Regions from separate parts of the Homo sapiens genome. Here regions 2 and 3 are each reported to be linked to region 1. Evidence: microRNA targets listed by miRTarBase, many of them from high-throughput screens and not tested one by one. Region 1 holds a microRNA gene; each other region holds the end of a gene's coding sequence.

What was found. Region 1 holds the annotated microRNA hsa-miR-3925-5p (AAGAGAACUGAAAGUGGAGCCU, at 2,564-2,585, shown strand). A microRNA usually pairs through its seed, bases 2 to 8, with sites in the 3' UTR of a target mRNA and lowers its output. Matches are read on the target gene's strand: a 7mer-m8 pairs with bases 2 to 8, a 7mer-A1 pairs with bases 2 to 7 and ends in A, and an 8mer does both.
Region 2: miRTarBase lists KRT33B as a target of hsa-miR-3925-5p. Seed matches in the 3' UTR shown: 7mer-m8 at 7,432-7,438.
Region 3: the mRNA of ZNF12 is a reported target of hsa-miR-3925-5p. Seed matches in the 3' UTR shown: 7mer-A1 at 2,782-2,788.

What each region holds. Positions count from the first base shown.
Region 1 is chr6:36,614,094-36,625,064 of GRCh38, reverse strand. It overlaps MIR3925 (microRNA 3925), which reads left to right and starts at 2,553; the gene lies at 2,553-2,629. RefSeq lists an enhancer at 9,951-10,000.
Region 2 is chr17:41,356,130-41,367,100 of GRCh38, forward strand. KRT33B (keratin 33B) reads right to left here. Exons shown (of 7, transcript NM_002279.5): 3 at 10,341-10,497; 4 at 9,263-9,424; 5 at 9,046-9,171; 6 at 8,650-8,870; 7 at 7,369-7,824. The coding sequence ends at 7,707. Among named protein-coding and RNA genes, the nearest start is that of KRT33B, 8.2 kb to the right of the region's middle. RefSeq lists an enhancer at 8,478-8,979.
Region 3 is chr7:6,681,958-6,692,928 of GRCh38, reverse strand. ZNF12 (zinc finger protein 12) reads left to right here. Exons shown (of 5, transcript NM_016265.4): 5 at 226-4,496. The coding sequence ends at 2,081. Among named protein-coding and RNA genes, the nearest start is that of ZNF12, 20 kb to the left of the region's middle.

The DNA of each region.
Region 1 (10,971 bases):
GACTGGGAATCAGCCTGACAGTTCCCTCCAGGCAGGCTTGTCCGCTGCCACCCCTGTCCCCACCGCAGGGATGGGACACTCACCACTTCTTGAGAAAGCCCATTTCGCCATTGGGAAGGTTTATTAAACATGAAATGAGGGAAAAGCCTAGTAGCTCCATCGGATTGGGAAGAATGGCAAAGAGAGACAGGAGTCATTTTCTAGAAAGCAATCTTCACACCTGTTGGTCCTCACCCATTGAATGTCCTCACCCAATCTCCAACACAGAAATGAGTGACTGTGTGTGCACATGCGTGTGCATGTGTGAAGGTATGAGTGTGAATGTGTCTATATGGGAACATATATGTGATTGTATGTGTGTAACTATGTGTGACTGGCAGCGTGGGGAGTGCTGGTTGGGAAGGTCCTCTCTGGAAGGCTGGGAGTGCAGAGGACAAGAGACTGACCTTGCTGAGTGGAAGCCATGGGCCAGGCTCTCCCCAGTCCTCATTGCCTAGAATGTCTTCTCCACACCCACCAGACGAGTACCACTCACACCCTAGACCTTCTTCTAAGTGCATCACGTACATAGCTCTTTTCATCCTCACACACTGCCGGGAAGGTAAGCTTGGTTACTTCTGCCATTTTACAGGTGGGGAAACTGAGGCTAAGAGAGGTTAACTTCTGCCGGCAACACTTGGAAATGGTTGGTATGGTTGGAAGCCGGCACCGCTGGGCCCAGGGTCTGGGGCTAAGTGGAATTCAGTGTGGGTCTTTCCTTTCCCATTAGAACCCCTCAAGTGTCAGACCCTCTGCCCCTCCTCGCAGTACTTCCGCCTTGCCTCATGCCTCCCAGGCACTATCTCTGTGAACTTTGAGCTCTGCCCCTATTGCCCAAGAAAGGCTCGCTGATGAGGAGGAAATTGCCCAGGTTTATAGTTTCCTCCCAGCCTCTCTGGCGACACCTGAGCCTGCTGCTTCTCCCCTTCCGCCTCCCGCCACAGTCATACACACAGCCACTCATGCATACTCACATCACACCACACTCCAACCAGCACTCCCCACGCTGCCAGTCACACATAGTTACACACATACAATCACATATATGTTCCCATATAGACACATTCACACTCATACTTTCACACATGCACACGCATGTGCACACACAGTCACTCATTTCTGTGTTGGAGATTGGGTGAGGACATTCAATGGGTGAGGACCAACAGGTGTGAAGATTGCTTTCTAGAAAATGACGCCTGTCTCTCTTTGCCATTCTTCCCAATCCAATGGAGCTACTAGGCTTTTCCCTCATTTCATGTTTAATAAACAAGCCGCTCTTGCGGAACGATGGTTGGATCCCTCATCAACCACCACACACTCCCGACCCCACCCTCCTTCCTGCCCCTGCCAGCAAACCTGACAGGTCCAAGGCCTGGAATTGAGAACCTGTTTTCTTCCCCATCCTGCCCCCTTGTGACGGGAGCCTAGAACTGCTGGCTCTGCGCCCAGAGGTTAACCACATTTCTCAGGAAGGTTCCAGTAGCCAGGCGGGTTGTTAGGAGAGGTCTGTATCCAACTCCCCTCCTCCTGCAGAGGGGCAAACTAACTAAATGAAGATCCACTCTTCCTTCACCCCGATCCTCAGGGCCACCAGAAGAGCTGACTGCTGTTTCACAGGCACACTCCACTGGCACAGGAGATGGGTGGGTGTGCCAACTGGACCAGCATATGGCAGGACCCTTATGATGATCAAGCCTACAGTCATCATACAATCACAGGATTGTTGCCCTATATCCATATTTTCTTGACACCCTAATAGTGCATTTGGCTAAACCTTGGTGAAATAGGCATGACAGCATGTGACTGTGCCGCCTCTGACACTGACCACCCAGGCCTTTCTCTTCACTCCTTCCCTGAGGCCTTGGAGGGTCTGCCTGTGGCCTTTAGTCTGGTGTTTGAGCTCACAGAACTGGGTGTGGTTGACCCTCCCTTTGTCCTCACCCCCTCCACACACACACAGGGATGCTCTTGCAGGCTCCTGGTTTGATGAGGCAGCCCAGGATGTGTCCCCACCTTTCCTCTTTGAGCCCAGGGCCAGTGTATTTCAGGCCGAGTGATTTCACCCAGGGTCTTGTTTCCATTCCATTTTATTTTTAGTCCTCAGGTGCAGTGGGATGAGTCCCTCCTATTCCCCAGGTGATGGCTGGCTGTCATCATTGGTCCTGACTAGTCACCTCTTGCTTCATGTATTCCCCCCTCACTCCATTGTCATTTCCATGCCCCCACCCCACAGGCAGCCATTCTACTATATCCTTTATTTGTATGTGTTCTTGTGCAGTGCTTTGTAGGCATGGATTTTGGTACTGCAAAGTGCTGCATTGTACACATAGTATTGCATAGTGTTGCCTTATTACCATTTCTGTAACAAACTGAATGTGTTACTTTATGTTGGAGCGTGGTGGAGCCTTAAGAATTTATTGAGAATCTCTGCATTAATGATTATGAAAGTGACTGCAAGTTTTCGCTGAGTCTTATTTCCTGAACATAAACTCAGGATCCTGGACCATGGTCATGTGGGAATAGCAAGAGAACTGAAAGTGGAGCCTGTCACATCTCCAGACTCCAGTTTTAGTTCTCTTGCTATTTCCACCACATCTTTCATCACTTCCTCCACTAAAGTCTTGAACTCCTCAAAGCCATCCACGTGGGCTGGAATCAACTTCTTGATGATGGATGAAGCCACTTCCTTGTGGCTGGAACCAACTTCTGTGTTTCCTAAAATGGGGACAGCAATAGTACCTACTCTCTAAAATTTGTTGTGGGCTAGGTGCGGTGGCTCACGCCTGTAATCCCAGCACTTTGGGAGGCCGAGGCAGGCAGATCATGAAATCAGGAGATCGAGACCATCCTAGCTAACATGGTGAGACCCTGTCTCTACTAAAAATACAAAAAATTAGCCGGGTGTGGTGGCGGGCGCCTGTAATCCCAGCTACTCGGGAGGCGGAGGCAGGAGAATCACTTGAACCTGGGAGGTGGAGGCTGCAGTGAGCCAAAATCACGCCACTGCACTCCAGCCTGGGCGACAGAGGGAGACTCCGTCTCAAACAAAAAAGAAAATATTTTTTGTGAAGATCAAATGGGTTAATACAAGTGAAGAGTGCCTGGCACTACTAGTGCTCAGTAAACATTGTTTATGGATGCTTTCTTTTTTTTTTTTATTAGGCCTTATAATAGCCCTATGAGGTAATATAATTAGTTCCATTTCACTGATGAAGAGACCAAGGTCCAGGGAACAAAACAACTTGCCCAGGTTTGCATCATGATACTGCCAGAAGCTAAATCTAGATCTTCAGACCCCAAGACGGCCACAGGACCTCGATCCCCATGTGTTCCCTAGAGGTGTTGTGCAGAACCTTCCTGATGCTGATCTGGATGACGAGCGGTCACCCACAGGCTGCTGGAGATGATTCCTGGTCGGGTGGCCCTCAGTCCTCCTTGATCTTTCTCCCACACTGTGATCTTCACACCCACTGGCCATTCCTGAGAAAGAACCTGCCTTCTCCAGGGCTTTTGTGGGTGCCCATGTTCACCAAGCAGCCTCTAAAGTGATGTGAATCCTAGCGCCAGGCCTGGTAGTAGCACATATGCATGGTAGATGCGTGCTGGAAAAGCAGGAGCCCTAGGAGCCTGCCTTGGGTTCTAGTCCTAGCCATCCATTGCCTCACCCTAGGGTCTAACTTTCTATCTCTAACCTTCAGTTTCCACATCTGCACAATGGGGATAGGAACTTTTCTGTGAGGATCAAGTAGGTTTTAGGAGACTATTCCAATCTTGATCAAATACTAACAGTCGCCTGAACCCTGCAGAACAATCCCTGCTTGTTGTACAGTCTGATGCCACCTCAGATGAACCATTACCCACTGTATGCACTGAACATTTTCCCCTCCCCTCCAGGAAGATCATCCTCTGGATCTGCCCTCCTCACAACGGCCTTATTGCTTTTCTGGAGTCACCGAATCTTAGAATATCGGTGCTGGAAAAGAACTTGAGGACCATCAGTCCCAGTGTGGCAAACTTATCTCCTTATCAAGGACCCCCGCTGCCTAAAGCAGTGGTTGACTCAGTCATTGCTCCCCTCACTGCAGGGTGCAGTGTGAAGAGGGGACAGATCATCCTGTGAGTTACAGGCCACCTTCAGCCCAAATACCCCCTTTCTACAGATAGGCAAACTGAGTAAATGATGATCCCAACTTCCTTCACCTGACCCTCGCCTCAGGGCTACCAGGAGATAGGGACGCCATGTTGGCACAGGAGATGGGTGGGTATGCCACCTTCCCCATGGGCAGGCCCCTATTGCGGTCACATCTCAAGTGACTACTTACAACCATCAAACAATTAGGGTTTACTGGTGGATGTCTTTATCTTTTTGACATTCTGTAGAATTATGCTAACAGATTTTGGAAAACAATTTGCCCAAAATCTACGTGACTTCATCCTTTGATTTTTGTTTGTTTGTTTGAGACAGGGTCTTGCCCTTCACTCAGGCTGGAGTGCAGTGGCGCCATCACAGCTCACTGCAGCCTTGACCTTCCAGGCTCAAGTGATTCTTGTGCCTCAGCCTTCCAAGCGGCTGGGATTACAAGCGTGCACCACCACGCAGCTTTTTTGTTTTTTTGGTTTTTTTTTTGAGATGGAGTCTTGCTCTGTCACCCAGGCTGGAGCGCATTGGCGTGATCTCGGCTCACTGCAACCTCTGCCTCCCGGGTTCAAGCGATTCTCCTGCCTCAGCCTCCCAAGTAGCTGGGACGACAGGTGCGTGCCACCACACCCAGCTAATTTTTGTATTTTTAGTAGAGACGGGGTTTCACCATATTGGTCAGGCTGGTCTTGAACTCCTGACCTCATGATCTGTCCTCCTCAGCCTCCCAAAGTGCTGGGATTACAGGCATGAGCCACCGCACCCAGCCATGCCTGGCTAATTTTTGTATTTTTAGCAGAGACAGGGTTTCGCCATGTTGGCCAGGCTGGTCTCGAATGTCTGGCCTCAAGTGATCTGCCTGCCTCGGCCTCCCAAAGTGCTGGGATTACAGACGTGAGCCACCACACCTGGCCTTAATTTTTGTATTTTTTGTAAAAATGCAGTTTTGCCATGTTGCCAGGGTGACTTCACCCATTTTCAATGCAGAATTTTAACACAAGAGTGTACTTTAGCCAGTGAAATGTGCACGCTTACTTCTTTTAGGAAAAAACTGAAATATTTGCTGGGAACCCCACAACAGTTGCCACAGGAAAGACCAGAAGAAAGCAAAAACAGGTAAGGAGCATCCTTTAAAGTGAGGGGAGGCCGGGCTCATGCCTATAATCCCAGCACTTTGGGAGGCCAAGGCGGGCAGATCACTTGAGGCTAGGAGTTCGAGACCAGCCTTTAGCAACATAGCCAAACCCTGTCTCTAATAAAAATACAAAAATTAGCCGAGCATGGTGGCACGCACCTGTAATCTCAGCTTATTGGGAAGCTGAGGCAGGAGAATCACTTGAACTCAGGAGGCAGAGGTTGCAGTGAGCCAAGATCGCACCACTGCACTCCAGCCTGGGTGACAGAGCAAGACCTTGTCTCAAAAAAAAAAAAAAAAATGTGAAGGGAAAGCCCACAATGATAGCACTTTCATGCTGGCAAGCCCACGGATGGTGCATACTCAGTGTCTCTGGGGGAGCAAAACTCAGGAGCCGACAGCCCTCACCTAGTCAGGTGGTTTATTCACAAACTGTCCACTCCCAGGACTTCAGGATGGGGCAAGTCACAAAGCAGGATGTTTTCAGTGGGGAATGTTTAAGTCCTTCAAGGAAAATACCGTATCATGAGCTTTTCAGGGACAGGTATCTGTGACCCACCTGTGTGCAATGCCTCTGTGGTCCTGATATTCTGGTGCTGGGCTTGGACTCAAGCTGTGGGTTTCAACCCAGCTTAACCTTATCTGCATGACCTTGGGGAAGGCACTTCCTCTTTCTGGAATTCAATTGTCTCGTTTGCAAAGTGGGACCATGATATCATCTCTACAAAACCCTCTAAACACAAATGAAGAAACTTCCCATACCAAGCACCCAGAATAAAGAAAAAGGCTAGAAAAACCAGAAGCTATTGAATCACTTTTTTCCCTTTTTTTGCTTATATGTGCTAATTTTTCTACCATGGTCATGGGTTACCTTTGAATTATTATAAAAGTGAGTAATTAAAGGGGGTGGAGCAGAGCTGATGTGAAGGAAAACGCTGAGCTTGGCAACTTTCAGGGCCTCCTCTGTGCCAGGCACAGTTGCTGATGCTTCACCTATGTGACCTCATCTCTTTGTCCCAACAAGCCTGAAAGGGAGGCATTATGGCTCCTACTTCCAGCTGGGGAGACTGAGGTTCCCGAAGGAGTCAAGCCCTCACTATCATGAGAGCCTGTGGTGATGGTGATGTACCAGGAAGGCGCATACAGATGTGTGGCAGCAGCAGCAAGGTGAGCACTGCAACTCTGAGAAAGCGGAGCCTCCCCCCTTTCTTGAGACACTGCCTCAGAGCCTCTGAGAAAAGCCTTCCCCACTGGTGATACGCCACGAACCTGCTCCTGGGGGACCTGCTCTGGATTCTTTTAAGATCAAAAAAGTTTATTATTAAATAGCAGCATCGTGTCCAGTCAGAAAAGCTTAAGTGTATGAACGTCCTTTTTTATTTTATTTTTTTTGAGACAGAGTCTCCGTCTGTCTCCCAGGCTGGAGTGCAGTGGCGTGATCTTAGTTAACTGCAAGCTCCGCCTCCCGGGTTCACGCCATTATCCTGCCTCAGCCTCCCGAGTACTGGGACTACAGGCGCCCACCACCACGCCCGGCTAATTTTTTGTATTTTTAGTAGAGGCAGGTTTTCACCATGTTAGCCAAGATGGTCTCGATCTCCTGACCTCTCGTGATCCGCCCACCTTGGCCTCCCAAAGTGCTGGGATTACAGGCATGAGCCACCACGCCCAGCCTGAATGTACTTTTAAAACATGTTTCTGCTGCTGGGCGCGGTGGTTCACGCCTGTAATCTCAGCACTTTGGGAGGCCAAGGTGGGTGGATCACTTGAAGTCAGGAGTTCGAGACCAGCCCGGGCAACATGTCAAAACCCTCTCTACTAAAAATACAAAAATTGGGCGTGGTGGCACATGCCTGTAGTCCCAGCTACTTGAGAGACTAAGGCAGGAGGATCACTTGAACCCAGGAGGCAGAGGTGAGCCGAGATTGCGCCACTGCACTCCAGCCTGGGCAACAGAGCAAGACTCTGTCTCAAAAACAAAAACACATGTTTCTGCATAAAAGCATTGTTTGTATGCCATATTCTCCTTCTATTGAGTAGCAACACAATTCATCCTCTAAACAAAAAATGCTAATTATACTTTGCTAAAACATATCTCCAAATATGGATTTAATAAAATGCTTTTCTCAAAAAAGAAAATAAAAAGGGTCCTGCCATTTATAAGTAGATTGCTTCTTTCAAAAGGCAAATGCCAATAAATGACACTTCATCCTGGAGATGTGTAGTCCACCTGTTCTGTGCCCCTGAGCCACCACCTGTTGCCAATGTGTCTGCAGCCAACAGGGCTAGTCCTAGTAACACGGTGCCCCACCCCACACCACTGCCCCACCCTGATACTGAAACTGCAGCTGATGGGGTAATGCTCTGAGCTGCCCAGAGGAATGAGGCAGACAAGTCCTGCTGTGGCCTGGAAAACCCTCAAAAGAGTCAGTGCAATTCTCAAGATCACAGGTATCTGCCTGTTGCTCAAGAGTCCCAACCTGGCCACAGTGAGGGTAGTGAGTGATAGAACAGGGGAAAGGAGACAGCCTGTGGCGCTGGCTCGGGCACAAACCACTGGTGAATCAGACCTGAATTGATTCCTGGAGCCAAGTACTGTTTGCCATCTGTCTGAGGCTTTATCTGCCAGGGAGATGGGCAAGTGGCCAGAGCCCTCTCAGGGTGAGGGGTTGAACAGCCAGGCTCCAGCACACTGCCATACCAGATGTCATGACTGGTCACTCAGAAAGGGCACCGGATGGGGTGGCAGGAGGCCGAGCCCCTGGAGATGGCCCCCCTAGGCTCCCTGAGTCTCAGCCACCCCCTCCTCCTCCCTGGGCCTCAGGCTCTTCATCTGTAGCATGAAGGTGTGGGCAGTATAAGGACTTTTCCCACTATGGCTGCAGAGGGCTCACAGGCACTTGGTTGAGTTGAAAATATATACAGGTCTAACAATTTTTAAGTTTTCTGTTTTTTCCCCCACATAAAACCTATTCAACCAAATGCCTATAAACATGTTGGGGTGATGTTCTTCTGACGTCTGTGCTTCTAGGTTGTTTATGGGATGGACCTTCCTATCCTGTCACCTCGGGGATTGCAAAATAAAGTGTTAAAAAATGTTACCATTTGCACTTCTCTATTCAACCAAAATAACAGAAGGAAATTGGATTTCTCTTGTCTTTATGAGCCAATATTATTAGAACCTATACTTTTTATAGCTATACCATTTTTAGCTGTTTTCTGTATTCTACATAAGATTTCATTCCAAAAACTTTAACTATGTTTAAAGTTTGAAAATCACCATCCCTGGCTGGGCATGGTGGCTCACGCCTGTAATCCCAACACTTTAGGAGGCCGAGACAGGCAGATCACCTGAGGTCAGGAGTTCCCGACCAGCCTGGCCAACATGGTGAAACCCTGTCTGTACTAAAAAAGCAAAAATTGGCCGGGCGCAGTGGCTCACGCTTGTAATTCCAGCACTTTGGGAGGCCAAGGCAGGCAGATCATAAGGTCAAGGAGATCGAGACCATCCTGGCTAACACGGTGAAACCCCATCTCTACTAAAAATACAAAAAATTAGCCGGGCGTGGTGGCGGATGCCTGTAGTCCCAGCTACTCAGGAGGCTGAAGCAGGAGAATGGCGTGAACCCGGGAGACAGAGCTTGCAGTGAGCTGAGATCGCGCCACTGCACTCCAACCTGGGCGACAGAGCAAGACTCCGTCTCAAAAAAAATAAATAAATAAAAAATAAAAATTAGCCAGGCGTGGTGGCAGGCGCCCATAATCCCAGTTATTCAGGAGGCTGAGGCACGAGAATTGCTTGAACCCGGGAGGCGGAGGTTGCAGTGAGCCGAGATCACATCACTCTACTTCAGCCTGGGAAATAAAGTGAGACTCAGTCTCAAAAAAAAAAAAAAAAAAAGAAAAAGAAAAAGGAAATCACCATCCCTGATAATCTCTAAGGTCCCTGTAGCTCTGACATTCTACTAGTCTACCTACCATTCTAAAGCTCTGAACAAATTCATAGGGTTTTAAACCTGTCAACATGGAACCTTTTAGTTTCCTGCCTTTGTTTTTATGCACTTGGCTCTTCATATATCCAACTTCCTATCCAAATCCCATTCTTTCAGCACTTCAGTAAAACCCCTTCCTCACAAAGCACTTAACATGGGTCTTGGATCTAAGCCTTGGTTTCAAAATAGGGTAACAGAGCCTCCCTCAAGTGGTTAGGTTTAAGTGAGTAGGTAGTATGTATATGTAAAATGTTTAGCAAAATGCTGATACATAAAGCTCAAGGATCAGTAATTACTGTTATGATTATCTTTGTTAATGTGTTATTATTGTCATGGTGGAAAAGTCAGTGCAGACTCAATTCCCTGAAGAGATGTGCAACCTCAGGCAAAAAGTCTGGCCCATTCTCGATGGTGCAGTACTGCCTCCTAGTGGGTAGCTGGGCATTTTTTTTTCTTTTTTTTTTTTTTTAGACTCCTGTCCCCCAGGCTGGAGCGCAGTGATGCAATCACGGCTCACTGCAACCTCAATTTCTCAGACTCAAGCGATCCTCTCACCTCAGCCTCCAGAGTAGCTGGGACAACAGGCACGTGCTACCACACCCGGCTAATTTTTTATTTTTAGTAGAGACAAGGTCTTGCTATGTTGCCCAGACTGACTCCTGAGCTCAAGCAATCCTCCCACCTCTGCCTCTCAGCCCAAGTGCTGAGATTACAGGCATGAGCCAGTGCGCCCAGCCAATTTTTTTTTTTTTTAATGACTGTCACACTGGCCAGGGAGGTTAACTGGCTGTAGGGTGAAGAGGACAGAGATATTAAATGTCTGGCACACAAAGAATTGCCCATGCCCACAGGACTGAATCCATTACAGGTATAAAATATAAAAAGTGCTTTAAATTTTTCGAAACCTGGCTGGGCACGGTGGCTCACGCCTGTAATCCCAGCACTTTGGGAAGCTGAGGCAGGTGAAATCACCTGAGGTCAGGAGTTCAAGATCAGCCTGGCCAACATGGTGAAACCCCGTCTCTACTAAAAATACAAAAAAAATTAGCTAGGCTTGGTGGCAGGTGCCTGTAATCTCAGCTACTCGGGAGGCTGAGGCTGGAGAATCACTGGAACCCAGGAGGCAGAGGTTGCAGCGAGCCAAGATCGCGCCATTGCACTCCAGCCCAGGTGATGGAGATTCCATCTAAAAAAAAAATAAAAATTCAAAAGCTGGGGAACTTAGCACAAGAAAACATTATGTGCACATTTCACATATAGACATACCTCAGATATATATGGGTTCAGTTCCAGACCATGTCAATAAAGCAGGTCACACAATTTGTTTCCCAGTGTATATAAAAGTTATGTTTACATTGTACTGTAAGTGTGCAAAAGCATTATGTATTTAAAAATGTACAGGGGCTGGGCATGGTGGCTCATGCCTGTAATCCCAGCACTTTGAGAGGCCGAAACAAGTGGATGGCTTGAGCCCAAGAGTTTGAGACCAGTCTGGGCAACATGGTAAGATCTCATCTCTAAAAAAATACAGGCCAGACGCAGTGGCTCACGCCTGTAATCCCAACACTTTGGAAGGCCGAGGCAGGCGGATTACCTGAGGTCAGGAGTTCGAGACCAGCCTGGCCAACATGGTGAAACCCTATTTCTACTAAAAATACAAAAATTAG
Region 2 (10,971 bases), not on the chromosome of region 1:
ATTTAGAGATTGAAAATATGAAAGAGATGACAGACAAGCTAGAATGTGAAGGTCCAAAATCTGTTTGAAGAAGCACAGAAATGGTGGTATGAAGAGCTTGGGGAAGTCTCTCCCCTAGAAAGACATCTATTAAGCCACTCAAAATTAACAAAGACATCAGTCAAAGGCTCTAGGCATTGATTAAAGGGCTTACAACAAATGAGAAGCATTTACTCAACAACCACACACAAAAAATGGAAACTTGATAAGAACACTGGGGGCTATGATGTTTAAATGAGGGACTCCATTATTTCTCATGTCTCTGCCTTCCAGAAGCACCATGTGCTGGGCAGCTGAGTGGCAGTTCCCAATCCTCCCAGCAGCCAATACACATCAGCAGATCCCATTTTTCATAGCTCACCCATTTCTAACCCCAGTTCCCTCTACATAGGGAGGATTCAGGCAGGGTGGCTTGAGGAGTGCAGTCCTTCTTTCCTGCACACCTCTGTGTTACAGGAGAGATGTTCCATTGGGCTCCACAGTTAAGATGGCAGTATCACCCAAGTTGATCTAAACTTTCAACAACACCTACCAAAATCCCAGCTAGCTGTTTTATAGAACTTGACGTGTTGTTCCTTTTATTCATGTGGAAATGCATAAGACCAGAATAGCCAAAACGATCTTGAAAAAGAAGAACAAAGTAGGGGGATTAACATTTCATGATTTCAAAACTTACTACAAAGCTACAGTAACACAGACAGTATTCTATTGGCATAAAGATAGACATACAGACCAACAGAATAAAATTGAGAGTCTAGAAATAAACCCTCACATTTATGGTCCATTAATATTCAACATAGGTCCCAATATAATTAATGGGGAAAAATAATCTTTTCAGTAAATAATGCTGGGACAACTAGACATCCACATGCAAAAGAATAAAATGTTTGACCCCTTTCTTACACCACAGACAAAAAAAATGACTCAAAATGGAGCACAGCCTAAATGTAACAGCTAAAACTAGAAAACTTAGGAAAAAAATGTAGAAGTAAATCTTCATGATCCTAGGTTAGGATCATGCACTTATTCCTCCATGATACCTGTTATATGTTACAACATGGATGGACCTTGAAACATACTATGTAAATGAAGCTAGCCAAAAAAACACATATTCTATGACTTCATTATATAAAATGTCCAGAACAGGCAAATCTAAAGAGACAGCAATGATTTCCTGGGCCTGGAGGGTTGCAGGGAACAGAGAGTGACTACTAATGGGTACAAGGTTTCTATTAGAGGTAATAAAATGTTCTAAAATGGTAGTAGTAGTTATAACTCTCATTATACTAAAAACCATTTGATTTTATACTTTAGATCTGTAAATTTTATAGTATATGAATTATATATGATACATTATACTTCAGTGAAGCTATTTTTTAAAAAAAGGAATTCAGAAGGAGAAAATGGAGTATAAGATATAAGTAATATTGAAAAAATGTAATGGCTGAGAATTTTCCACGGGTATTGAAATACATGAATCAATCAAGAAGCACATAAGTCCTAAGTAGGAAAACTAAACCAAAGCCATCCCTAGAATAACATAGTGAAACTGCACAACACTAAAGACAAAGAGATGATCTTAGAAAGAGTCAAAGAGAGAAAAAAATAGAAGAATTACCAACAATGGAAATACAGGTTAGCAATAGGCTTTTCAGCATCAACAACAGAATCCAGAAGATAATGGTATAATATTTCCAACACGCTGAAGGAAAATAGCTGCCAACCTAGAATTTTATACAAACTAAACCATCATGTAAGAGTGACCACTAAGAAAAGACATTTTCAGAAAATAACAGAGAAGTTGTCACTTATAGATTCTTAGTCTGCTGTGTGTTGCTACAGCAGAATTCCACACACTGGATAATTTATAAAGAAAATAAATTTATTTCTCCAGTTCTAGAGACTGGGAAGGCCACTATCAAGATGCTGGTATCTGATGGGGGCCTTCATGCTGCATTGTCCCATGGTAGAAGGTGTAAATGCAAGAGAGCATGACAGCCAGAGAGCAAAAGGAGGCCAAACTCATTTTATAACAAGTCCACTCTCATGATAACTACCCCCCTCCCATGATAAAATGACATTAATCCATTGATGAAGGCAGGGTTCTCATGGCCTAATCACTACTTGACCATTAAGTAGTAGTGAATGGTTTAAGTAGTAGTGAATGGTTGGAGGTGTCATTCAAACCATAGCAAATGCTATAAAAACTACCAAAGAATGTATTTCAGAAAATAAAAAGTTAAAACCAGAAAGGACGAATAAAGTCCAAGAAACACTGCAAACAAATAAACTGGTAACCATGTAGATAATTCTAAATAATAATAATAATGACCAAATTTTGGAGCATAAAAATAAGGTAAGATTGAACATGGCGACTCACATCTACAATCCTAGCACTTTCAGAGGCCAAGGTGAAAGAATCGCTTGAGCCCAGGAGTTCACGACCAGCCTGGGCATCATAGAAAGACCCTCGTCTCTACAAAAAAAAAAATTAATTAGCTACACATGGTGGCATATGCCTGTAGTCCCATTACTCAGGAGGCTGTGACAGGCAGATAGGTTGAGACAAGGAAGGTGAAGCTGCAGTGAGCTATGATCATGCCACTGCACTCCAGCCTGGGCAACAGATCAAGATCCTGTCAATAAATAAATAAATAATAAAATAAACCAAGATAAAAAAGTAAAGTAAAGAACATAAACAAAAATTTCTGACAGGGCACAGTGGCTCACACCTGTAATCCCTACACTTTGGGAGGCCAACACAGAGAATCCCTTGAGCCCAGGATTTTAAGACCAGCCTAAGCAACATAGAGAGACCTTGTCTCTACAAAAATAAAAAGTAAAAAATTAGCCAGACATGGTGGCATGCATGTGTGGTCCCAGCTACTTCGGAGACTGAGGCAGGAGGGTCACTTGAGGTTAGGATCCTCAGGATCTGGGAGGTTAAGGCTGCAGTGGGCCATTGTATTAATCCATTCTCACACAGCTATAAAGAAATACCTGAGACTAGGTAATTTACAAAGAAAAGAAGTTTAATTACCTCACAGTTCTGCAGGCTGTATAGGAAGCATAGAGGCTTCTGCTTCTAGGGAAGCCTCAGGTAGCTTCCAATCATGGTGGAAGGCAAAGGTGCAGCGAGGTGTCTCACATGGTGGGAGAAGAAGCAAGGGAGTGGGGGAGGTTCTACACACCTTTAAACAACCAGATCTTGTGAGAACTCACTCACCGTTGTGACAACAGTACCAAGGGGGATGGTATTAAACCATTCATGAGAAACTGCCCCCATGATTCAATCACCTCCCACCAGGCCCCACCTCCAACATTTGGAATTACAATTCAACATGAGACTTGGGCAAGGACAACATCCAAACTGTATCGGCTATGATTACACCACTGCACTCCAGCCTGGGTAACAGAGTTAGATCCTGTCTCTTAAAAACAAAAAACAAAAACATCTTCTATGGATCTTGTTTTTATGCAAGAAGAAAGAGATTAAATTAGATAGTGCTAAGTCAAGTGTGCACATTTAAAAATTAAGAACACATATTAAAAGGGGGAACAAAGAAAACAAGATCAATCCACAGGTGTCAGGAACTGAGGAAACAATAAGCAACAAAAAAAAATCATCCTTAATGGAAAGGACAAAGTAAGATTTTTAAAATAAGTCCAAAAAGTCAGTAATAAAATTACATGTAAATAGATTAAACCCTATTTCTCCTCATCAGACATAGAGTGCCCTCACCACCTTATCCAAAAGTTTCCACTTCCTATTCCCTTTCCTTGCTTTATATTTCCTCTCAGCACTTATTGCTTGACACAGTCATGCTTGTTTGCCTCTTTTTATTGTCTGTCTTCTTCCACTTGAAAGTAGGCTTCTTAGAGCAGGTCTTTGTTTTGTTCAGTGCTCTGCCCAACAGGCACCATCGTAAGCATTCAATGATTATACATTGGATTGAATTGATTTATAGAGAAGACACATGAATGACCAATAAAAAGATTTTTTAAATATTTAATTTCACTAGAAACTTTAAAATTATGAAGTGAGACAAGCTAGATTATACCCACATTTCATTGGCAACATTGCCTTGTCACACTAGATGGCCAATTGCAGGTCATCATGTCATGGTGAATTTTACAGCCAGCGTATCTTGCCAAGTCAGTAAGCTAAGTAGTGCCAACTGAAAAATCACAAGATTAATAAAGTTGGAAAGGAGAGCTTTATTTCTCATAAAAGGCTGCAGCCTCCAGGCTGACCATCCTGCAAGCTGGGAAGCGTAGCCTCTGGCAGAAGCCAAGAGTAAGCATTTTGAGGGAGGGAAATGTGAGAAAGGAATGTATGCTGAGTGAGGTGGCCAAATGCACTATTTAATAAGCTACAGGAGGAGTCATGAATATTTATGAAAAGACAAATGTAAGCATGTGCAATTGAGCTTCATGCCTCTTCATGGGTCGCATGTTCACAAATGGTGGCATTAGCATGATCCAAGGATGGAGTTTTTGGCCCTCTGATGTTGAAAGGTGAGGCAGAGGATGTGAAAACCCTCACCGCACATCCTCTGTAGACTGGCCAGACCACTCCATGGTTGGTGGTCTCTTATCAGGAAGGAATGCCAGCCAGTTGGTTGCTGTGTTGAAACTGCAAAAGGCGGGAGGAAGGAATCCAGTCACAGCTTCAGATGATGGGCTAAAGGTGATAAAGGAATGATTCATCTGTTTCTTATTTTCCAGAGCTGGTTTCTGCTTACTCCTTAGGAAAGAATTCTGGTTAAAAGTTAATAAGGAGGGGGCATACTGAGGCATGTCTGACCTCCCATCCTGTCATGGTCAGGGACTCTGTTTTTTTCTTTCTTTCCTTCTTTTTTCTTTTTCTTATTATACTTTAAGTTCTGGAATATATGTGCAGAACGTGCAGGTTTTTTACATAGGTGTACATGTGCCATGGTGGTTTGCTCCACCCATCAGCCCATCATCTATATTAGGTATTTCTCCTAATGCTATCCCTCCCCTAGCCCCCCACCCCCCAAAAGGCCCCAGTGTGTGATGATCCCCTCCCTGTGTCCACGTGTTCTCATTGTTCAACTCCCACTTATGAGTGAGAACATGCGGTGTTTGGTTTTCTGTTCCTGTGTTAGTTTGCTGAGAATGATGGTTTCCAGCTTCATCCTTGTCCCTGCAAAGGACATGAACACAACCTTTTTTATGGCTGCATAGTATTCCATGGTATATATGTGCCACATTTTCTTTATCCAGTCTATCATTATTGGGCATTTGGGTTGATTCCAGGCCTTTGCTATTGTGAACATTGCTGCAATAAACATACATGTGACTCTGTTTTTAAGGTTTCTCTTCGGTCCCCTTGGCCAAGACAGAGTCCGTTCAGTCAGCTGGGGGACTTAGGATTTTAGTTTTATTTCTCAGTGGTAACACTGACCCTTCCCAGATACTTCAGAAGAGCAATTTGGCTTTGTCCTGAGAAAAAGTGATCTCCCTGACACTCCTTTCTTTTATCCTCCAAGGAGAGCACCATGGCAGAGATAAGAACTAAGGACTGTTTTCCCTAGACCCATGTTTTCCGCTGACACAACATCAAACATAGAAACAAGTTTTGCTTAATATTTTATAAATTGAACACTAAAAACAAAGTGTATTTACTGTGTTGAGAACTTTGACCTCTCACTCACAAAGCATGCAACTGGGTATTTGGGAGGCACTGTTCCTGGTGAAGGTAGCTGAGAGGTAACTATCAGTGGACAGTAATCCCAGCATGTGTGGAGAACTGCCGGGATAAATTGAACAAGGGCGGTTTTCATGAGGCATGCAGGTAGCTCCAGGGAATGAACTCTCCCTGAGGAAAGAGAGAATAGAGTCCACAAACTGGGTCTAAGACATTCTGAGCAGAGGATGGAGTATCACTCAGACGGTCTTCCAAGGTCTCCTGTCTAAGCTGCAGCAGCATCAACAACAAAGGAGTAGATATTAAGTGAACTAGAATATGAGAGCACAAGAATTTAAGACTGGCCAGGTGCAGTGGCTCACACTTGTAATCCCAGCAATTTGGGAGGCTGAAGTAGGCAGATCACTTCAGCCCAGGAGTTCAAGACCAGCATGGATAACCCAGCGAAACCCCTCTCTACAAATAATACAAAAATTGGCCATGCATGGTGGTGCATGCCTGTAGTCCCATGTACTCAAGAGGCTAAAGTGGGAGGATAGCCTGAGCCTGGGAAGTTCAAGGCTGCAGTGAGCCGTGATCATGCCGCTGCACTCCAGCTGGGGTGACAGAGTGAGACTCTGTCTCCAAAAAAAAAAAAAAAAAAAATTTAAGAATTTAAGACTGACATGTGATGATGGAACCGGCATCATCACAGCAGGGGAGATAGTATCAGCTTCATCTCAAGGAGAGAAGACATAATTAGCAGATTGGTTAATCTGGGAATAATCTGCAGACTGAGGGAGTGGCCTTGGCACAAACCACAGCATGCACAGTGATGGGAGCCATTAACCTTGGTTAGACATCAGCAGGCACCAGTAGGGGCCAGGCACCAGTACCGTGGTCACTGTTAGCATTTGCAAACACCTGACTTGTAATATCCTAATTTGATTCTAAATAACTTTGAGGGGGAGGGTCCCGAAATTCATATGTAGTTCCCATGGTTAAACAATTCAAGTGAGAAAAGAAACACTTTCAAAATAGGTTGGGTATTGCTCAAATATGGAAGATGGCAAGGTGGTGCTTTTTAGTATTGAGTTATTCAGTATTTCACAAAGGAGAGTTTCAGAGATGTTTTGAGCACTAACAGCATTGTGTCTCCCCAGGAGGATGTATAAGCTCTGGGTGCTTGTTTGAAATCAATTTTGTCCTCTCATAATCACACCTCATGTGTAACTGACAAGCAGAGAGTGAACTCTGGGTTCAGTCCTGCCATTGATTCTTCCTCACTGTGAGGAAGAGAAAAAATTAGTAGCACAATTCCTGGCATTTGGTAGGTGTTCAATAAATATTAACTTCTGTCATCCCTGCTAGGGACTTAAAAGAATGAGTGGAACTGTCTAGAGATGCTCACCGTTGCATTTTACTGAGTAAGGTCCCATGAGAAATATGTTTATCATATTCAGACGAGGCCTCTTGTCCTAGTGATCCTACTTGTTTTATGCTGGCCTAAGTGGATGCTGGGACTCACTGTGCTTAATGAATGTTAATGAAGGTGATGAAGACCTTTTAGGAGATGATTAACCTATAAAGTCCTCCTTCTGCTTTCAAGTGGCTTTATAAGAAGCACACAGAGAGTCAACACTTTGAAAAGAATGAATACAAATGAGAATCATGTCTGCTTTGCAAGAGGAAAGTTTATTAGGCGATTTGGGGAACTGCAATAAAGGTAGAAGCAGCAGAGAGAACAAAACACCTCGTATGCCACTGTCACAGCTCCAACCTCTGACCATCAGAACTCAGACTGACTACAGGAGAGGGACCTGGGGTGAGGAGGATCAAGTAGCCCTAGGCTCAGAGTCAGACCCAAACGCTGGGCATTTGTTCTCCTTCCAGACCATGATTTGTGGTGATGCCTCGGGGTGGGGTCCGGTGGCTGATGGTTGTCAGAGAGGCAGAACTGGCCCACCGATGGTAGTTCTGTCTTCATGCTATACTTCTGCTGGCCCCAGGGTATCTAGTACCCAAAGGTGTTGCAAGGCCCACAGCGGGAACGAGGACCACAAGGATTGGTGACACAGGATCCAATGGGCTTTTCACATGCATTGGTGGTGGCGCAGGGGTTGGAGGGCAGCCTGGGATGCAGAAGCATTAGACTGTCAGCATGAGAAGGGTGATTCAAACAAGGGAGACTCAATCCAAAGAGACACAGAAACAAGCAGAACCCGTTCTCTGATGTCCTAGGAAGCCATGCCTTGTTTGGATCACTCCTTCTACAGAGTTCTGATACAGTGGCAGAAATGAGCAAAGAACATGTAAGGTGGAATCCCAGCCTTCCTTGTATGACCCTAGACACACAAGAAAGTCACTTCCTCCTTCTAAGCCTCAGCTTTCCCACCTGTAAGGTAGGACTGGTAGTACCAACCACACAGGATTATGAAAATTCCACAAGACTGTGTTCATAAAAATATTATGTTCGCTGGCAACTGCTGTACTGTTAGTTATTGATCATCAACCCTATTGACACTCAAATGCTCATCTATAAGAAGGTGATAATGATTCCCACTCTGCCTGCCTCAGATGATTCTAACAAGAATTAATGAAACGGTGGATTTGAAAGTTCTGTTTAAATCAGAAAAAGTGATCATTGTTACAGTTTCATTTTCCTTTTTGTGGTGACAAGACAGTCCTGAAGACAGAAAGATTTATTTGGCCATCAACATCCAAAAAATCTCTACTGGAGGAAGGAGTCAAGTCCCATGACTATCTTTTGTAAAAGAAAGTATCTTTAGCCCAGATAATGTTAGCAACAAATATCCTACACTTCCCACGGCTGTAATATAAAACTCTCGCCTCTACAGACAGATTGGCATCTGAAACTTGATTTTCAAAGTCTCTGTTTTATCCTACAGTAGAACAGTGCCTGTCCCTTGCAGGGGTGCCGTCCGCCAGGTACTCACTTGCAGTCCTCGCTCTCCAGCAGGCTCCGGTATGTGTTGATCTCACACTCCAGCCGCGCCCGCACGTCCAGCAGCACCTGATACTCCTGGTTCTGCCGCTCCAGGTCACTGCGGATCTCCGCCAGCTGGGACTCCACGTTGGTGATCAGGCTCTGCACCTGGGACAGCTGGGAGCTGTAGCGGGCCTCGCTCTCTGTCAGCGTGTTTTCCAGAGAGTATCGCTGTGGTGGGAAAGATCAGGAATGTCAGAGAGCTGCTCCTTATAGGGTTCCTCCATGGGGTTCGAAAAAACTCACAAGCTCCAAGAGCTAAGAAGAGTGTGTGGCCCCAAGGGCATCCCCAAGACTCTGCCTCCCAAGTTCCCATCGCTCACCAGCAGGTCTGAACAATACACACCAGGTTGTGCTGGGCCTGCAGCTCGATCTCCAGGGCATTGACTGTGCGTCTCAGCTCGATGATCTCCGCCTGGTAGGACTGCAGCTGCTCCGAGCTGGATACCACCTGCTTGTTCAGCTCCTCGGTCTGAAACACCCAAGGGGAGAAAGGATCAGACCCTGCCTCCGGGGCCCTGGGGGGCCTCGGGTCCTGAGTGGCCACGTGCTTAGATGCCCACCTGCGTGGCGAACCATTGCTCCACTTCCCTGCGGTTGGTTTCCACCAGGGCCTCATACTGATTCCTGGTCTCGTTCAGGACCTGGTTCAGGTCCACAGCGGGAGCAGCGTCCACCTCCACGTTGAGGCGGTCTCCAAGCTGGCAGCGCAAGGTGTTGACTTCCTAATGGAGAAAAGGGAAGAAATAAACCCACAGAAAGAAGTCTTTCAATAACTTCTTTGAGGCAGTTCAATATAATGGGAAGAGGATTGCATTGCAGCTTAGGAAACATGAGTTGAAGCCCAGCTGTCACCTCTGGAAATTCTGGCCTCTTCTCTGAATCCCTTCCCTCATCTGTATGATACGGCTGCTTCATTAAATGATTGCTAATATTTCTACCCAGTCCAAGATTCTATCATTTCTTTCTTATTTCCCCTTTGCTCAGTGATAAGCCTGGCATGATAATTGGCTTACAATTGTTGCTACTTAAATATAGAGAAACCAGGTTTCATTCCTCCTATTTATTTCATGGGATACTACTAGAGTATGACACATGTTTTCATCATGAAAACGTCTAATGTTTGAGACATGCATCTGATTTCGTAGTATTGCATTCAGCCATGAGATCTGAATCAACCATTATTTGAGTTATTTCATTTCTCCCGTTTTTCCCATCCATCAGTTCATCCATCCATCCATTCATCCATCTATCCATTTATCTAGCTTGAGTTCTAGTTATCTAGGTGAAACAGAGTGTAAGAATGTTTTCTATCTCCTTCCAGTCTTGGTCATTAACCTACCTGGCACCTCTTCAGAAGCTAATAGATAGCATCAAACAGTAGACAGTAGTTTAAAGATATTTGTGTGACCTTTCAGCCATACATGTCTGGTCCCAAGGGGAAGTAGGTCAGCTTACCACACTCCTTTATGTAAAAAAGGTAAGCTGTCACTCATTCCCCAACAAGCCCCAAAGTATGTTTTGAGCAACCAGCAAAATGTTGTTAGGCCTAGGGTGCTTAGCAAATCAAATCCTACCTTATCCTATTCAGGGGGATCACAGAGCTCTCAGTATTGGGATATTGGGGGCTGGGACTCTTACCTGCTCATGGTTCTGCTTGAGGGACAGCAGCTCCTCCTTCAGGGACTCCATCTGGGCCTCCAGGTCAGACCTGCACAGGGTCAGCTCATCCAGAATCCTGCGCAGGCTGTTGATGTCGGACTCCACCAGCTGCCGCAGGGACTGCTCCGTCTGGTACCTGCACACACAGCCAGAGGTCAAAAGAGGTCCAAAAAAAAAAAGTCTTTGTTTCCCGGCCTTTACTTGGCTGACTTAGTCAATTTTATTATATTTTGAAATATTTTGAATTTAAAAAATTAAGGGAGAAAATACTCCTGTACTGAGTGAGAAGGCCTATTTTGTCACTGAGACACACAGAAAAGGTATTGGTGGAATGCCTGTGGATAGTTTAGTCTAACACAAACTAAGTTTGTTCTAAGACTCTCGTTTACAAGTTACTATCAACTAAGCCCTGCTGCTTTTGCCATCTCAAGTGAATCAGTGCCCTTCATAAGCCTGCTCCAGGTTGTCCTGTCATCCTTTCCAGCCTTGCCAAGAAGCAATCTAGTGTTGTGGAAGAAACACTGAATTCAGAGTTAGAGCCAGTATTCTCATTAAATGACTGTAGATAGATACCTTTATCTCTCTGAGGCTTGATTTCCTTAACTGTAAA
Region 3 (10,971 bases), not on the chromosome of region 1:
CTTTCTCCATTCCTAGAGGGGGATGTGTGTGTGTGTGTGTGTTTGTGTGTGTGTAATTTTAAGCAAAAGCATAAAGGAGAAGAGTACACTTGGAATTATTTTCATCTGTTCATGAAGCTAGCATCTACTCACAATGAGATGCGTGTGTACAAATCATGAATCTCATTCCATATCATATATATATAGGAAGATGTACAAAAGTTTATTAATTTTGTCTCTCTTTAGATGAAGTCTGGCAAACTGATGACCTAATAGAGAGAATCCAGGAAGAGGAAAATAAACCTTCAAGGCAAACTGTGTTCATTGAGACCCTGATTGAAGAGAGAGGTAATGTTCCTGGTAAAACTTTTGATGTAGAAACGAACCCTGTTCCTTCAAGAAAAATAGCCTATAAAAATAGCCTCTGTGACTCATGTGAAAAGTGTTTAACGTCTGTTTCAGAATATATTAGTAGTGATGGAAGCTATGCAAGAATGAAAGCTGATGAATGTAGTGGATGTGGGAAATCACTCCTCCATATTAAGCTTGAGAAAACTCATCCAGGAGATCAAGCTTATGAATTTAATCAAAATGGGGAACCTTATACTCTAAATGAAGAAAGTCTTTATCAGAAAATTCGTATTTTGGAGAAACCTTTTGAATATATTGAATGCCAGAAAGCCTTCCAAAAGGACACTGTTTTTGTTAATCACATGGAAGAAAAGCCCTATAAGTGGAATGGATCTGAAATAGCCTTTCTCCAGATGTCGGACCTCACTGTACATCAGACATCTCATATGGAAATGAAGCCCTATGAATGCAGTGAATGTGGGAAATCCTTCTGTAAAAAGTCAAAATTTATTATACATCAGAGGACTCACACAGGAGAGAAACCTTACGAATGTAATCAGTGTGGGAAATCCTTCTGCCAGAAGGGAACCCTTACTGTGCATCAGAGAACACACACAGGGGAGAAGCCCTATGAATGTAATGAATGTGGGAAGAACTTTTACCAGAAGTTACACCTCATTCAGCATCAGAGAACTCACTCAGGAGAGAAGCCCTATGAATGTAGTTATTGTGGAAAATCCTTTTGCCAGAAGACACACCTCACACAACATCAGAGAACACATTCAGGAGAGAGACCTTATGTTTGTCATGACTGTGGGAAAACCTTCTCGCAGAAGTCAGCACTTAATGACCATCAGAAAATTCACACAGGTGTGAAACTCTACAAGTGTAGTGAATGTGGGAAATGCTTCTGCCGCAAGTCTACTCTCACGACCCACCTGAGGACCCACACAGGAGAGAAACCGTATGAATGTAATGAGTGTGGAAAATTCTTCTCTCGGTTGTCATATCTCACTGTACATTATAGAACTCATTCAGGAGAGAAACCCTATGAATGTAATGAATGTGGAAAAACCTTCTACCTGAATTCAGCCCTCATGAGACATCAGAGAGTGCACACAGGAGAGAAACCTTACGAATGTAATGAATGTGGAAAGTTATTCTCCCAGTTGTCATACCTCACTATCCATCATAGAACTCATTCAGGAGTAAAACCCTATGAATGTAGTGAATGTGGGAAAACCTTCTACCAGAACTCAGCCCTTTGTAGACATCGGAGAATACACAAAGGAGAGAAGCCCTATGAATGCTATATATGTGGAAAATTCTTCTCTCAGATGTCATACCTCACTATACATCATAGAATTCATTCAGGAGAGAAGCCCTATGAATGTAGTGAATGTGGGAAAACCTTCTGCCAGAATTCAGCCCTTAATCGACATCAGAGAACACACACAGGAGAGAAAGCCTACGAATGTTATGAATGTGGGAAGTGCTTCTCTCAGATGTCCTATCTCACTATACATCATCGAATTCATTCAGGAGAGAAACCCTTTGAATGTAATGAGTGTGGAAAAGCCTTCTCTCGGATGTCATACCTCACTGTACATTATAGAACTCATTCAGGAGAGAAACCCTATGAGTGTACTGAATGTGGAAAAAAATTCTACCACAAATCAGCATTCAACAGCCATCAGAGAATTCATAGGAGAGGCAATATGAATGTAATAGATGTGGGAAGGCTTCTCTGAAGTCAGACCTCATTTTATATCAGAGAACCCTTTCAGTATAGTGAATCAGAAACTCCTGCCTGAAGTCAAACACCTTGTACATCAGAGAGTTCACACAGGTTAGTGTGGACATCCCCTTGTGTGTTGGACTCATAATCTGAAGACTCACAGAATGGAAACCATGATTATAACAAGACCACATGGTATAACAATACTAGACTATAGACAAGTAAAAATTTATAAATATTAAGAATGTATATACATGTCACCATGGATTGGAACTGTTTTGCATATCAGGGAAATCATAGCCAAGGGGAAATCTATCAGTATAAGGAATGTGGAAGACATAATCCTTTGGAAACTGTTAATACTAAAAGATATGTTTCTGATACAATAGCAAACTTGAAAAAAAAAAAAGAAATAGAAGATTCCTGCTGTGAATAAACATACTTCTTGTGTAAATAGAAACTGTAAAGTCATCAGGATAGCTAGTTAAGTCGGTAACCTTAAACTCATGTAAGCAGTTCCCAAAGAACATAGGACTTATGTTTGGGGAGAGGGTTGTTTTTATTACAGTACATTACAGGAATTGTATGTTCACTTCGAATCATGTTTGAAAAAACGTTGTATCCTTATTTTGTAATTCATATAGTAAGAGTATTCTAAACAGCACTACATTAATATCATTTGATAGGTATAAAGTATACTTTTTCTTGCACTCTTCTCTAGGATTTAATGCATTGATCATTCTTAATGAACAATATCAGCTCTAAAGGACCAATGCTTTTATAATGTTTTCAACTGTATCTGAGTCAGCCAGAGAGATAAATATCCATGTATAAAATAGATAGAAAACTTTGCTTGGTAATTTAAAATTAATAATGCCAGTTTTCCAAGAGTGAGAAAATCATTGCACTCTATACAGTTTTAAGATATACTTAAAATATTCCCATTTGTATCTATTTTTTTTTCTACTGTTTTTTATTTGGACACTTACATAACAGTGCAGAGCACAATGCTGTGTAACATAGGAATTCACTGTGTTTTCATTTGATGTCGTACTGGTTTTAAACCTTGTGCTCTACTCCTTCCTGTTAATGAATTAAGAACACATTCTAACAAGGGTCTGTGGCAGACATTGCCGAGTGACTTTCTAACATAGGAATTCACTGTGTTTTCATTTGATGTCGTACTGGTTTTAAACCTTGTGCTCTACTCCTTCCTGTTAATGAATTAAGAACACATTCTAACAAGGGTCTGTGGCAGACATTGCCGAGTGACTTTCTTAGTCACTCCCTTACTCTGCTGGCGGAGTTTGGTTATCCATTTATCCTCAAAAGGAAGTGAGATAAATCCTGATTAGTTTTAACCAGTGACACTCCCCTTCTCGTTGCCAGCAGTTGATTTACAGTGGTCACAGGGCCCAATTCTAGACATAAAACAAAGGATATACCTGACAGACTACTTCTGGAAAAGGTTTTCTCAAAGGCCCAAGGATTCAAGCAAAGGGAAGTGGAATCTTGTGGTGAACAGTACCTTGTCTGGATGTGGTGCCTGGTAACCATCTTTCAGCAATGGATTATAGTTTAATCATGGCCTGAGCAGAAATACTGAAAGACCCTGAGACCTGGATGATGTCTTTGAGCCACCAAACCAAGCAGCCTTGTAGCCACTCCTCCTTTGGACTGTTTCTTTTGTGAGAGACTAAACTTATTTTTAAGCCAGTTGATTTAGGATGCTCTATTACTAATAACTGAAGACATTCTAATTGGTACAGACTGAAACCTTTATAGGAGTTATGCAGTTCAGAAGTGGACTTTAGGTAAGTCATTTATTTTAAGCTGTTGATATAGAGATTTATTTTCTGTAAATTTTGACGTAAATAGTTTGAGCATTAGAAATCAACTTGAAACAATAAAATGTATGCTTCCTTGAACTGTCATATCGTTGACCTGCAAAATTCACCTTTGGAACGTGACACAATGTTAGGCATACCTCCTTTTTTCTAATACATGGAATACATTTTGTTGGAGGTAATTTATGTGATTCATATACCACTGCTACAGTGTTAGCTGACAACATATAGTATGAGGTAAGGATCTAATTCTGTTTCCTCTCACATGATTACTTGATAGCTAAGCATCTGATTGGTTTACTGCTTTACCACTGAGCTGAAATGCCGTGTTTTCCATTTATTAAAATCACACATGGCTCCTGTTTTTGTCACTCAGCACTTTTTCTCCATATTCTTCAAGACGATTGTGAGTATGGTACGTAACAGGAATTACATCTGGTAAGTTGTATAGTTTTGTGTAGGAACTCTATATTCATAGCATATTTGTGGAAATGATACCTATGGAGGTTTCTCACACTGGTGTGTCATTATACATTAATTGTACAATATGCATTTTCAGTAAAATATTTGAAAACTGTAAATGGCTTGGCATTTTCTTCTTATCCTATGGATTGCCTGCACATCAAAGGGTCTGGTACGTATATAAGTGGTCCTGAACTGCCTCTTCAGTAATGTAGTCAGTGTTCATAGTAACATGTTTATAGTTTAAAAGATGCCAATGTTTTCATAAATTAAGAGATTTTTTTGGCCCATCTTAAAATGAAGCCCACCAGGAAATACATTCTTAAAATTATATTGCTTTTTTCTTCCTATCACAGAGATAACTACATCAAAAATAAATTGATTTTCCCTTCATTGAATATAAAGTCTATGATTCCTGCCAAATTGATGCACTAGCATGGGCTGCTGGCTTGTTACAGTGCAAGCCCGGAGGTGCCACGGAAATAAGAGCAGTGTTTGGGTCCAGAGAACTAAGGATGTGAATGGGGCTCTTTTGCGGGAAAGGTAATGGCAGACAGAACAAATCTTAAAGAGTAGTTGAATTGTAATCTTTTTCCCTATACATTTATGGTCCTCTGTAGTATGCCCAGGAGATGATAGCCCACCATGGTGCCTTCATAAGATAGGAGAGCAGCTCGGTCCTATGGGAGCACTTAGGTTCCATTAGAGCATCCTCTCCTCACTTCAAAAGCCAGTCATTGCTACGACTGGAGACATTCATTTTTTTGTTTGTTCGTTTTGTTTTTTGTTTGTTTTTGAGACGGACAGAGCCTTGCTCTGTCACCAGACTGGAGTGCAGTGGCACGATCTCGGCTCACTGCAAACTCTGCCTTCCGGGTTCAAGCGATTCTCCTGCCTCAGCCTCCCAAGTAGCTGGGACTACAGGTGCCAGCCACCACTCCCAGCTAATTTTTTGTATTTTTAGTAGAGATGGGGTTTCACCATGTTGGCCCGGATGGCCTCGATCTCCTGACCTTGTGATCTGCCTGCCTCGGCCTCCCAAAGTGCTGGGATCACAGGCATGAGCGACCACACCCAGTCGACTGGAGACATCTTAAGGAGGCAGTATTTAGGGTGATCATGTCAAGTGGTATCCTGAGGGTCAGTCAAGCGGGGCGGGGGGGGGTCTCATTCCAGGCATTGGTGATAGGGGATTTTTTTCTGTAACACACTCCTCCACTTAAACCCACCCAACAGGAAGAAACAGGAGGATTAGGCCTTCTCCCTGCTATTCATTCTCAGCCAAGATTTACAGTATCCAAGTAAACATTCAGGAAAGTAGTCAGACACATGAGGAATTGGTACTAAGAGACAGTACACAATACCATTTACATGAGAAGGCCTAACTTAATGAAATATGGGCATCCAGACAGATTTCAAAATGTTCTTAATACATATCTTTTTTTTTTTTTGAGATGGAGTCTCACTGTGTCGCCCAGGCTGGAATGCAGTGGTGCGATCTCAGCTCACTACAGCCTCCACCTCCCAGGTTCCAGCGATTCTCCTGCCCCAGCCTCCTGAGTAGGATTACAGGCACGTGCCGCCATGCCTGGCTAATTTTTGTATTTTCAGTAGAGACGGGGTTTCACCATATTGGCCAGGCTGGTCTTGAACTCCTGACCTCAAGTGATCCCCCCCATCTCGGCCTCCCAGTGTGCTGTAATTACAGGCTTGAGCCACTGCGCCCCGCCTTAATACGTATCTTTGAAGAAAAATATAAAGATGAATGGGGTGTGTGTAAAAATATAGTTACCAAAAGAAAAGTGGATTGTTGAGCATGCATAATCGACATGAAGGAAATAATAGATGAGATTGATAGATGCGATACACCCAAAGAACGAGTTAGCAGGCTCTGTTGTAAAGGCAAATATTTCCTCCAGGACACCAGAAGAAATGAAGAAATGGAAAGTGAAAAATCAAAAACTGAGATGTAGAGGATAGTAGAAATAACCATATACTACAATTCCCAAAAGAAAAAGAGACAACACACGAGGAAAATACACGAATTAAAATTTTCTTGTAATTAAAAAAGAACGAAAGGCCTCAAATTGGAAGAGATTGATGTGGTGCCAAATGGAAAAATAAAGAAAATCCTGGGCTGGGCGTGGTGGCTCACACCTGTAATTCCAGCACTTTGGGAGGCCGAGGCGGGTGGGTCACGAGGTCAGGAGATCAAGACCATCCTGGCCAACACGGTGAAACCCCGTCTCTAGTAAAAATACAAAAAATTAGCCAGGCATGGTGGCAGGCGCCTGTAGTCCCAGCTACTCGGGAGGCTGAGGCAGGAGAATGGCGTGAACCCGGGAGGCGGAGCTGGCAGTGAGCTGAGATCGTGCCACTGCACTCCAGCCTGGGCAACAGAGTGAGACTCTGTCTCAAAAAAAAAAAAAAAAAAAGAAAATCTTGTTCCATCCTTTTTTTCATTCATAACCTAAATGATTTTATCAAATGTTCTACCTGCAAAACCAGCACTTCTAATTGCTGCACTGTTGTTATGATGAAATTCCTTGTATATATATCCTTATGTGAATGAACTTCCCTGGAACATATAAACTGATGGTATACATTGCATAAGGCACAGACATTAATTTTTTTTTTTTTTTTTTTTTTTTTTTTTTTTTTTTTTTTGAGGCAGAGTCTCGCTCTGTCACCAGGCTGGAGTGCCGTCGTGCTATCTGGGCTCACTGCAAGCTCCGCCTCCCGGGTTCAAGTGATTCCTCTGCCTCAGCCTCCTGAGTAGCTGGGACTACAGGCACACACCACCACACCCAGCTAATTTTTTGTATTTTAGTAGAGACGGGGTTTCACCATGTTGGCCAGGATGGTCTCAATCGGACCTTGTGATCTGCCCGTCTCGGCCTCCCAAAGTACTGGAATTACAGGCATGAGCCACTGTGCCAGACCAATATTAATTTTAAAAGATACTGCCTGGTCACTTCCCTAGAATGGGTGTCATTTTATAGCACGAAACCTTTTCAATTACCATTCACATCTTCACCAATATTTACTATATGTCTCTGTAATTTTTGCTGTTCTGAAGGATGTGAATGGGGTATTTTGTTGTTTCAACTTGCATTTTGTAACCACTAATTTCAGGTATAGGTTATATCCTTTTTTTTTTTTTTTTTTTTTTTTTTAGTATACTACCCTTTTATTATTTGCTGAATATCCTCATATATTCTACTTGTTGGTTTTACTTTAGATTGAGCAAATTTTTCTTTTTTTCTTTTTCTTCTTTTCTGAGACAGAGTCTCACTCTGTCACCGAGGCTAGAGTGCAGTGGCACGATCTCAGCTCACTACAAGCTCACCTCCCAGGTTCATACCATTCTCCTGCCTCAGCCTCCCGAGTAGCTGGGACTACAGGCGCCCGCCACCATGCCCGCCTAATTTTTTGTATTTTTAGTAGAGATGGGGTTTCACTGTGTTAGCCAGGATGGTCTCAATCTCCTGACCTCGTGACCCACCCGCCTCGGCCTTCCAAAGTGCTGAGATTACAGGCGTGAGCCACCACGCCTGGCTGCAAATTTGTCTTTATAGACTGGAATTTCTTCGTAACAAGATTTATGAGACATCCTAGGTGAACATCCTTAACAGAGGTTAGTAAAATGTGAAACAAGCAGTAGAAGGCTGTGAGCAGTTAGAAGTAAAATGCTAGACTGGCATGTAGCACATTTGATAAAATCTCTTAGATATGAATGGGAAAACTGATTCAACAATATTTAATATAGCTAAACAAAATGTCAAAATTTCTCATACCTACACACACATCTATTATATAGGTTCACAACACTACTTAACGTCATAAATTTCATGTAACACCTATGGGGGAGGGAATGGGGTGGGGTCTGGTATGAAGAGGAAAGAAAATCAGGTAAAATAAGAGGGGGTCTGTCTTAATCCATCTCCTGTTGCTGTAACTGAATATCTAAAACTGGGTAATTTATAAAGGAAAGACATTGATTTAACAGTTCTGGAGACTGGCAAGTCCAAGGTCTAGGGGCTGCGTCTGTTAGCAGCCTTCATGCTGGCGGCGACTCTGCAGAGTGCTGAGGTGCAGAGGGCATCACATTGTGAGGAGGCTCATGAGAGAGCCAACCTGGCTTTTTATAGTGATAACTAACTCACTCCTCTGATAACCCATTAATCCATTAACCCATTAACACATTAACTTTTTCATAGGGCAGAGCCCTCATGACCCAATCACCTCTTAAAAATGCTACCTTTAGTTCTGTAGGGGACAACCATTCAAATCATAGCCAGGTCCTTGCAGAAGCCAACGTTGATCACACCTGTAATCCCAGCACTTTGGGAGGCCGAGCTGGGTGAACCACTTGAGGTCAGGAGGTCAAGACTAGCCTGGCCAACATGGTGAAATCCCGTCTCTGCTAAAAATACAAAAATTAGCCAGGCATGATGGCACACGTCACCTATAGTCCCCACTACTCAGGAGCGTGAGGCAGGAGAATCGCATTGCTTGAACCCAGAGGCAGGGGTTACAGTGAACCAAGATTGCGCCACTGCACTCTAGACTGAGTGACAGAGACTCCATCTTTAAAAAAAAAAAAAGTAACCAATGTTGATAATAAATAGTCTGTTCAGTTTTAGCCACATTTTCATGGCTCAGGTGCCTAAGTGATGTCTGTGCCTTTTTTAGCAGCTTTGCCCTGTGCCAGCTTTCATGGAAATGGTTGGGCTGCTCAAACTGTTGGACACATCCTTGCTTTGTTGAACGAATACTCCATCTATGAGTATCTGCATCGCATGACAGAACTCTGCAACAGACTGCTAATTGCACTACAGTGTTCCCCCTCTTTGTAGGATTCCCTCTTCCTCAAGTCTCAGCTGGGTACCTAATGAGATTTCTTTATTTTTTTAGAGGCAGACTTACTCTGTTTCCCAGGTTGGAGCACAGTGGTGTAATCATAGTCCACTGCAACCTCCAATTACTGGGCTCAAGTGATCCTCCCCCCTTCACCCTTCCAGATAGCTGGGACTTCAGGTGTGTGCCACCATGCCCAGCTTTTTTTTTTTTTTTTTTTTTTTTTTTTTTTTGTAGAGAAAGAGTCTCACTGTGTTGTTCAGGCTGTAACTGGAGAGTTCATTTCTCCACTTTCCTGTTAGCTAGCTGTGGCCAGGTGACTAGGTTTTGGCCCTCAGGACGTGAGTAGACAGCTGGACAAATGGACAGGTAAGATGGGAAAGCAAAGCCTTAGGATGCAACAGAGTTGCCTAGATGCCTGTCAGGACCAGAGCAGAGGAAAGATGACAGAGACAACTGTCCAGGCAGATGAGACCTGCCAGCCATTTGCACAAATGGGGCCTTCATGACACATTGTCACCAGTGGGGCAGAATTGTTGCATCACTTGCCACAGGTGAGGTGGCCAAAAAGCCAGTGTGCCTTCTCCATCCTCTCTCCCTTTCTGCTAATGAGCAGATTGACCTTGGAAACCTGAAGGAGAACTGAGAAGCCATTTATAGAAAAACTGAAGTCCCTGGAAGCCACTCTCTGAACAAGAGTGCTGATTTTGGACTTGGTGTGATTGAAAACTGAAGTTCTATTGTGTGAGCTGTTACGTTTGCATTTGTTAAGAGGAAATACCACTGAAACAATGGAGAAGGCATCCAGCAAATGCCTCCAACAAAAAATTCCTCCTACCCTACCTGGAAGCTGCAAGTCCCTGGGTAAAGCCGGCAGGTAAACAGTCAACCTCTAGGGCATTCAAATTAGGTGCCACCTTCCCCAAAGAAAGTTAGAAAGGAGACAATTGGAAGGAAGATGAGGCAGGCCTGGGGCCCCAGGAATGCTCAGTGGGCCATGGTGATGTCCCTGGGGTCGGGGAGAGCAGCTGGAGTGACCCCCCAGTCTCTGGTCATCAAGAGATTGTTCAAGCCAGCTGGATTGAGTGGCCCCCCTCAGTGGGCAGTTCACTGAGGTTAAATTTAAATGCAGATTTAGTCATAATCCCTACAGGCTTTGGAAATAAGAGCCTGGTGAGTCTATTCTAAAGGTCATCTCTGAGAATGAATTGTAGGAAAAGCCAAAAAGCTTGAAAAACAGGATTGTTCTTTGATGTATGGAAAAGATTACAAAGCAAGAGGAATTGGAACATGATCTTCTTTAGCATAAAGTATTCATAGTTCAATAAAATAGAATAAAACTCAGAATTGGAGTATAGTCACACACCACATAACATTTTGATCAGTGATGGACCAGATATACAACAGTGGTCTCATAAGATTCTAATACCGCATGTTACTGTGCCTTTTCTGTTTAGATACACAAATGCAACTGTGTTACAGTTGCCTAGCGTATTCAGTACAGTCACATGCTGTTGAGGTTTGTAGCCTGGGAGCGATAGGCCATACCATACAGCCCAGATGGTAGTCTTTACCACGTAGGTTTGTGTAAGCACGCTGTGTGACATTCACACAATGAAGCATTTCTCAGAATATATCTCTGTTGTTAAGCAAAGCATAACGGGACTCACAAGCTATGCCAAGCAGGACTAAAACTGTAAATTAGACAAAAACCAATAAAACCAAGCTGCTGAC